Regions from separate parts of the Homo sapiens genome. Here region 1 is reported to be linked to region 2. Evidence: microRNA targets listed by miRTarBase, many of them from high-throughput screens and not tested one by one. Region 2 holds a microRNA gene; the other region holds the end of a gene's coding sequence.
Evidence for each region. The annotated mature microRNA hsa-miR-4444 reads CUCGAGUUGGAAGAGGCG and lies in region 2 at 1,111-1,128, opposite strand. An mRNA with a match to its seed (bases 2 to 7 or 8) in the 3' UTR can be bound and repressed. Matches are read on the target gene's strand: a 7mer-m8 pairs with bases 2 to 8, a 7mer-A1 pairs with bases 2 to 7 and ends in A, and an 8mer does both.

Region 1: the mRNA of GALM is a reported target of hsa-miR-4444. Seed matches in the 3' UTR shown: 7mer-m8 at 1,747-1,753.

The regions. Positions count from the first base shown.
Region 1 is chr2:38,732,627-38,737,021 of GRCh38, forward strand. It overlaps GALM (galactose mutarotase), which reads left to right. Exons shown (of 7, transcript NM_138801.3): 7 at 862-2,139. The coding sequence ends at 939. It overlaps LOC124905993 (a long non-coding RNA gene), which reads right to left and starts at 924. Exons shown (of 3, transcript XR_007086292.1): 1 at 840-924.
Region 2 is chr3:75,211,251-75,215,645 of GRCh38, reverse strand. It overlaps MIR4444-2 (microRNA 4444-2), which reads right to left and starts at 1,170; the gene lies at 1,097-1,170. It also overlaps the pseudogene HNRNPA3P6.

The sequences.
Region 1 (4,395 bases), not on the chromosome of region 2:
GCTTGCACCTTGGGCTGGGCAAGGTGGCTCATGCCTGTAATCCCAGCACTTTGGGAGGCTGAGGCGGGAGGATTGCTTGAGCCTGAGATTGAGGCTAACCTGGGCAACACAGGGAGACCCCATCTTTACAGATTATTAGAAAAATTAGCCAGGTGTGGTAGTGCACACCTGTGGCCCCAGCTACTTGGGAGGCTGAGGTGGGAGGATCCCTGAGCCTGGGAGGTCAAGGCTGCAGTGAGCCATGATCACACCACTGCACTCCAGCCTGTGCAACAGAATGAGACCCTGTCTTTAAAAAAAAAAAAAAAAAAGGGCCAGGTGCGGTGGCTCACACCTGTAATCCCAGCACTTTGAGAGTCTGAGGCAGGTGTATCACTTGAGGTCAGGAGTTCGAGACCAGCCCGGTCAACATGACAAAACCCTGTCTCTAGTAAAAATAAAAAAATTATCTGGGCATGGTGGCAGGTGCCTGTGATCCCAGCTACTCTGGAGGCTGAGGCAGGAGAATCGCTTGAACCCAGGAAGCGGGGTTTGCAGTGAGCTGAGATCGCCCCACTGCACTCCAGCCTGGGCAACAGAGCAAGACTCCATCTCAAAAAAAAAAAAAAAAAGCCTACACCTTACACCAGATTATAGATCAACACACTGCTTCCCTTCATCAGGAAAGCCTTCCTTTAACAAAGTGTGCTTTTTTCACTCTGATTAAAGTTCTTTATCTCACTATGAACCAATCATAAACAGTTCCCGCACTGGCAGCCATCCACAGAGCACTGGTCTAGAAGCCCGTCCAGAAGCACACCCAAATGGTTAATGTTGCAGCCTGCGGTGTCAAGCATCACCTGTGTTGTTTCCCCTTCACAGCCCCGCTTCCCTCCTGTGCTGCTGAGGCCTGGTGAGGAGTATGACCACACCACCTGGTTCAAGTTTTCTGTGGCTTAAGGAAGTGTGAAGATATGATCCAGTCCAGGGCTAGGCTCAGCCACCTGTCTCCTGTCCAGAAAAAAGGTGAAGATTAAGAAGCTTTCAGAATGATTCTATGGATTAAAATCATACAAATGGTGGCTGTTCTGAGAATCAGTCTGGGTATTGATTTCCTTTTCCAGTGACTGGCTCCAGGCCATGTCTAATGACCAGCTCGATTCCCTGTGCAGTTCAGAGGGCAAGTGAACCCAACCAACAATGTCGTCATCTAAGCCCTGACCCTAGCCAGGGACTCCCATGCTGCTGTTGGCTCCATCTCTCCACACTGCCTCTTTCTTTTCAACTTTTTGCCCTTCCTTTCTTTAAAGCTATTCTCACATTGCTTTTATTTCCTCCTCCTTCACCTCCAACCACTGTCAGCAGCACTCTGGAGTTTTCAAATGTCACATTAGCCTCACCCTGCATGCTAGGAGATGGACCTGTCTCTATACAGCAGTAGATGATTGATAAGTGAGGAAACTGAGGCTTACAGAGGTTGAAGACCAACAAGCTAATAAATAAAAAGTTGAGGCCGGGCACGGTGGCTCACGCCTGTAATCCCAGCACTTTGGAAGGCCGAGGCAGGCGGATCACGAGGTCAGGAGATCGAGACCATCCTGGCTAACACGGTGAAACCCCGTCTCTACATAAAAAATTAGCTGGGTGTGGTAGCACGCACCTGTAGTCCCAGCTACTTGGGAGGCTGAAGCAGGAGAATCGCTTGAACCTGGGAGGTGGAGGTTGCAGTGAGCCGAGATCATGCCACTGCACTGGGCAACAGAGCAAAACTCGATCTCAAAAAAAAAAAAAAAAAAAAGGAAAAAAAAGCAGCTCTCTCTCTCGGGAGAGGGAGGGGACTTCCGAGAGGAAAAGGCCTGCAAGAGCCTTTGGGTTAACTGAGAAAGCACAGCCCGGCCAACGCTTGGGAAGAAAGACAGGCAAGCACTGGAAACAGGAGCTATTAGGGTGAGGAGAGAGCCTTGCCTTTCACAGCACAGTGAGGATGACATTGCACCAGGGACAGAGATTGTATGTGACAAGGCTGGGGCTCCTTCTTTCCTAGACAATCAAAGTATCAGTGATGGGTTTTGGTTGGTGATTTTGAAAAAAAAAAAAAAAAGTATGTTATACTAGTGTATGCTGTACTGAATTGAAATAAAACCAAAATCTGCATCTTCAGAAGACTTGTTCCTTTACTCAGCTTGAAATCTCTCAGGCGTGGACCTTTGGGAAATGGACCAAGAATATGGGTGTGTTCTGGATTCTACTTTGCCCTCCAGTGGGAGCCCTGGCATTTTCCTACCTAACAGTTAGGAAAGCTATCTCAGTGGAAGTAGCTTTCCACACCTCCTCTTTCTTTGTAACCGATAATAAACCAAAGATCTTGTTTATTTTTTAATTCACTTCAGCATGGATTTTTCTGAGCACCTGCTCTGTACACAGCCCTCTGCTGGGTCTGTGAAGGGATTCAGGTCAGGTGTGATGCTGCCCACAGCAGCCAGTCAGGTGAGGTACATGCTCAGTTGTCTTCTCACTGGTGAGGTTAACTTTGGTGACTTGAGCAAGATGCTGCCTGCAGATCTCTCCACTCTTATTAAAGTTACCAATATATACATTAGCCAAGAGGCCTCAGAGGTGAACTATTAAGCTGACTGCAACCTAGCTACCAATTTGATTATTAAATTGTTCGACGCAGGGTTCTCATACTCTAGGTGCCAGCAATCATTTAGGAAATCCCAGAGAAGAAGAGAATGAACATTTTCTTATTCACAAGTGTAGAGTTGCCAGTTGCCCCTGCTTTCTGTATCCTGACCAAAAGTCACAGAGTGCCTTGACCTTTGTCACCTAGCCAGCTGCAGATTTTTCCTAGCAGGCTTGAACCCAAACCGGGCCTTGAACATTCCCAGGCACTGATAAATCTGTCTAGGTTGTTCCCTAAAACACTAAAAGAAACTGGCACTGGGCCGGGCGCAGTGGCTCACGCCTGTAATCCCAACACTTTGGGAGGCCGAGGCGGGTGGATCACCTGAGATCAGGCATTCAAGACCAGCCTGGCCAACATGGTGAAACCCCGTCTCAACTAAAAAAAAAAAAAAAAATACAAAAAAATTAGCTGGGCATGGTGGCGGGTGCCTGTAATCTCAGTTAGTCGGGAAGCTGAAGCAGGAGAATTGCTTAAGCCCAGGAGGCGGAGGTTGCAGTGAGCCAAAATCATGCCATTGCACTCCAGCCTGGGTCACAGCAAGACTCTCATTGCACTCCAGCCTGGGTGACAGCAAGACTCTGTCTCAAAAAAAAAAAAAAAAAAAAAGAAAAAGAAAAAAGAAACTGGCTCTGGCCCTGAGCCAAATTCCTTTAACTGTCATAGAAACTCCCTCACTGCTGATATACCTGGGCAGAACACCCCTTTTCTCTCTCAACCATTGCTGCAGCACTCTGTAAGGAAGTTCCTCTAATAAATGCTTTGGATTGATCACCCTGGCGCTTAGAGCTTCTTTCTTTGAAATCCCAGCCGGCCCTATCTCGAGATAGTTTGGATCACTCCCTGATGGGGTCTCCCCTGCTGCCACTATGGGGGCGATTCCAGCCCTGGATCCACTGAGACAAAACAAAGAAATGTAACAACTACAAACTAGTTCTTAATGTAATGGCCTCTAGGTTTGAGAATGCCAAATTAATTAATTAATTAGCCAAATACTTTGTTTTCTTCTGTCCAAAAAGATTATTGTTTTTATAAGAAGCCAAGTCTACAGTAGTCCAAGTAAGGATATTCATTGCCTGTAGGGCAGCTGAAATAAGTTACTGGCCTTTAAATTAATGGTGTTTATAAAAGCAAGTAAAAAAGGCGGCCAGGCGCTGTGGCTCACATCTGTAATCCCAGCACTTTGGGAGGCCAAGGTGGGTGGATTGCCTGAGGTCAGGAGTTTGAGACCAGTCTGGCCAACCAGGTGAAACCTGGTTTGAGACCAGTCTGGCCAACCGTCTCTACTAATAATACAAAAAAATTAGCTGGGCGTGGTGGCATGCACCTGTAATCCCAGCTACTCAGGAGGCTGAGAGAGGGAAATTGCTTGAACCAGGGAAGTGGAGGTTGGAGTGAGCCGAGATCTCGCCACTGCACTCCAGCCTGGGCGACAGAGCGAGACTCTGTCTTAAAAAAAAAAAAGGCTACATTTGTCACACCATGCATCTGAGGGAAGCAAAAATTTAGAGAAACTCTTTTTGTGGCAGCAACCAATCTGTCCTTTTTCATGAAACACATAACTTTGCTTGAGAAGCCCTTCCATGTGCTTATAAGACATAGATTGTGACATGTGACAGCATGTCAGCATAATTGGGTGATTTTATGATAAAATCGCTGAAGGCCCCAGCAAGAAGTAAAATTTTAGAAGGTGCTGGACGCGGTGGCTCACGCCTGTAATCCCAGCAGTTTGG
Region 2 (4,395 bases):
TTTTCTGCTGTTTTTAGAACCTTCTGCTACCATATCCACCACTTCCACCACCAGATCCATAACCACCACCATAGGGACCGCCCGAGCTTCTTCCACCAAAACTGCCCCCTTTCATGGGTCCATAATTTGATTGCTGTTGTCCACTATAATTTCCAAAATCATTATAGTTCCCACCACCACCATAGTTACCACCGCCAAAATTTCCTCCTTCATTGTAACCATCATATCCTCCACCTCCACCATATCCACCACCTTGGTTTCCATATCCTGGTCCACCATCACCATAGCCCCCTCTACTACTATAACCAGGACCACCGCCATAGTTGCCACCATCACCTCCAAATCCATTATATCCACCATCACCTCCTCCATAACTACCTCTGCTGCCACCACCTCCACCACCTCCAAAGTTCCCTCCGCGACCCATAAAATTGCCAGATCCACCTCCACGACCTCTCCGTGATCCAGCAGACTGCATCTCTTGTTTAGAAAGGGTCTTTTTCACTTCACAATTATGCCCATTAATAGTGTGGTATTTCTGAACAACAATTTTATCAACTGTATCATGATCATCAAAAGTTACAAAAGCAAATCCTCTCTTTTTTCCACTCTGCCTGTCTTCCATAACTTCTATGGTTTCAATCTTGCCATACTTTTCAAAGTAGTCTCTCAAATTATATTCTTCTGTATCTTCTTTAATACCACCAACAAAAATTTTCTTCACTGTTAGATGGGCACCAGGCTTTACAGAATCCTCTCTAGAAACAGCTCTCTTTGGTTCCACTACACGCCCATCAACCTTGTGTGGTCGAGCACACATTGCTGCATCCACCTCTTCAACACAAGAATAAGTCACAAAACCAAAGCCCCTGGAACGTTTTGTTTGGGGGTCTCTCATTACCACACAATCTGTGAGTGTGCCCCATTTCTCAAAATGTTCTCGTAAACTATCATCTGTAGTTTCAAAGCTCAGACCACCAATAAACAGTTTTCTCAACTGCTCTGGTTCCTTTGGATCATGGCCCTCCTCCCCCCGGCGGCGACGGCGACGGCCGGAGTCGGGCTGGGGGCGACTGGGCGGCGGTTTTACCTCCATTTTGAGACCGGACTCGCCTCTTCCAACTCGAGTTCAATATGGGACCGAGAGGAAGAGGCGGGGCCAGTCGTCACGTGACGCGTTTTCCCCGATTTGTTTCTTATATCAGTCTAAAGTAGATAAGAGGGGTAATGATTTTCATTTTAGAACCAAGGCCCTAAGAAAATAAATGACTTGGCAAGGTTGTACACATTAAATGCTGCATCAAGGGCTTAAACACAGGCCTTTTATACTAGAAGTGTAAGATATCATCCAAAATATCTGAGGAGTCTTGTCAAAATATGTAACCAGTCACTTCCCTGATATTTTGAGTCAGATTCTTCCCTTGATTCCCAAATGTTCCTGACGTGCTTTTCAACAGCCTTATCACAGCCCTCTCAAGTTTAACAATCTTTATTTCAATAGAATGAGGAAGTCTCTTCTTCATGACACTTTTGATGCAAGACACTTAAAACCCACCTCAAATTGGCTTCAGTAGAAATGAGAAGGGGGCAGGGATCTATTTTCTCACATAAATGAAAACTCTAGGAATAGAAAATCTTCAGGGATAGCTGGATCTAGGATATTTAATGATGTCCTCAAGACCAGGTCCCTCCCCACAGTGTATGACTCAGTTCTTCTCTACAGTAGGACTAGGATCTCTTTTCCTGGCAGCCTCCAGGTGCTCCAGGCTTCATCAAATCTTCATGTCAAGGAGAGACATCTCCTTCCTCAACAGTGTTCCAGTAAAGGTTCTGGGTTTGCCTTGGATTAACTCTGAGTTAGTGGCCTTGGGAGAGGTTGCAGTGCTCTGTCAGCTGAGGCTTTCTTCCTAAGCTTGCCATCAGCTAGAAGCTCCAGCCCACAACACACATCAGGATAAAGTAAAGGCTGACTACTGCAGAGGAAAATTCATCTAATGTTGACTACATTAAGAGCTGCAAAGGACATTTAGCTCAATTTTCTTTTAACTCAGTATCCCCTGAGAGCTAAATAATCTTAGCTTGTTTTATCAGTAAGAGAAGACTTTAGGAGTTTTATGATGTGGCAGTGTCAGCGGGCTTTTGACTGCCAGTGGTCCATGTGGAAGTGGGCAAACGGAACATTTATACATTAACTGACTTTTCAATTCATTTATCTCCATTTAAACAGGTGCAGGTGACGGAAGAGCTGGAACTTGGAAAGTGTGGAACATTCCAAAAGCTCTAATGCTTTGAACTTAGACTATGAGGGGCTATTAAAGTCAGTCATTGTAATAAATTTATTATATTGTGGTACTTGTATCTGTCCAATGCCAGACAGAGTTCAGATTTATGGCCAATCATACATTATGTATCAGCTATAAAAATAGTTTTATGCTATTGCACTAAATTTCAAGAAAATAAAAATTCTGACAAAGAGGATACTACACTAAAAAAATCTCCAGCTTATGATCAACACCTTGGAGTTGCTTCAGCAATCAACTATGTATTTATGTTTAGTGTCTCTCAAAAGCACATTGAGACATTAATAGTAGTTTTCAGAAGCAAAAGTGGTGTCTAGAAGGAAGAAAGCTTTTAGCTGAGAAGAAATTGAATCAATTTTTCATTTTAAAGTCATAAAGGTTTTAGTGTTATTAAGCCCTAGAACCACCCTAACAAAAGAACATTAGTCCTAAGTAAATCGTGTCTTGTTTTGGATGGTACAAAGAAGTGCAAGAGTCAGAAATATATTTTTAAAAGTTAACAAAATCTGTTAAATAATAATGACTTCAGTTTTGAAATATTAGAAATTTCCTCCATCCACAAAAAGACATAAAAACTGAGAACAAAATGAAATTAAAATAGTGCTTGTCACCTCAAATTCATTGCTGAGGGAGTCATCACATTGAAAAGTAAAAATCAGGATTTAGCATTCAGCTAAAATGCTTATTCAGTTTTCTATAATCTGTAATAGTTTATTGAGCTTTCTTTATATTTCATTACCTTGATATTTTTGAATAGTGTAAGACATTCTTTTGGTAGACTGTCCCTCAATTTGGGTTTTTCAGACATTCTTTATGATTTGATTTACATTTTTGGTAGCAATACCTCTATATTAGTTCATTCTCATGCAGCTATGAAGAAATACCAGAGACTGGGTAATTTATTTTTTAAAAAGGAGGTTTAATTGAATCACAGTTTTGCATGGCAGAGGAGGCCTCAGCAAATTTACAATCATGGTGGAAGGCACCTCTTCACAGAGTGGCAGGAGAGAGAAAGAGTGCCAGCAGGAGAAATGCCAGATGCTTACAAAACCATCAGATCTCATGAGAACTCACTCATTATCATGAGAATAGCATGGGGAAAACTGCCCCCGTGACTGAATTACATACACCTGGTCTCACTCTTGACACATGGGCATTATTACAATTCCACGTGAGATTTTTGTGGGAACACGGAGCCAAACTGTATCAACCTCAGAGGTGCTGTTGCCTTCTCAGTACATCATATCAGGAGACACAGCATCATTAATGGTGATTTTGACTTTGATCACTCAAGTAAGATGGTATCTGCCAAGTTTCTGCACTAGAAATCTACTTTTTTTCCATTTTGAGTTTAATATGCATCTTTTGGGGAAATGCTCTGTTTATTTTCAAATTTTTACTCATTATTTTTAATGATAGTTCATGCTTCTGCCTAAAATAATTATTGCTCTGGTGATATTCTAATTCCATTATTACTTCTATCTCATTTGTTTACACTCTACAGTAAGGAAGAATTCTATCTCATTCATCCATCATTTATATCATTATGAACTTATGAATACTTGTTATATTTCATTCTATATTTTGTATATTTCACTACTTTCACTATTTATTTTAATGTTCACATTTTTCCAGATTTTAACCATTTGTATTGCAAATAAATAACATAACCACACTTAAAGGGGTGAGGGAGGGAGCTAACTTGAGTAAATTTTGAGCACAGTGCTTTGATTATATATGCTTATATTAAAGACTAAAAAAATTAAGAATGTATTGAACTCTAATTTGTAGCTGTTTTCTCACTCTAACATGAATTAACAATTATGAAGCTACTTTATGTGATTCTAGTTAAATAAAATGAATTGTTGATAGTGAAAAGTTGGTGTTTTACTGTTGGAGATGGGAGTGACATACATGGAAAGGTTAGAAAAAAAACATTATGTTGAATTGTAATGAAAAGTATCAATATAAACTTAAGGTTTTAAATTGTTTTAATTTTTCTTTTTTTGACAGGGTCTTGCTCTGTCACCCAGGATGGCAGATCATGCAGTGGTGTAATCACAGTCACTGCAGCCTCAACCTCCTGGTCTCAAGT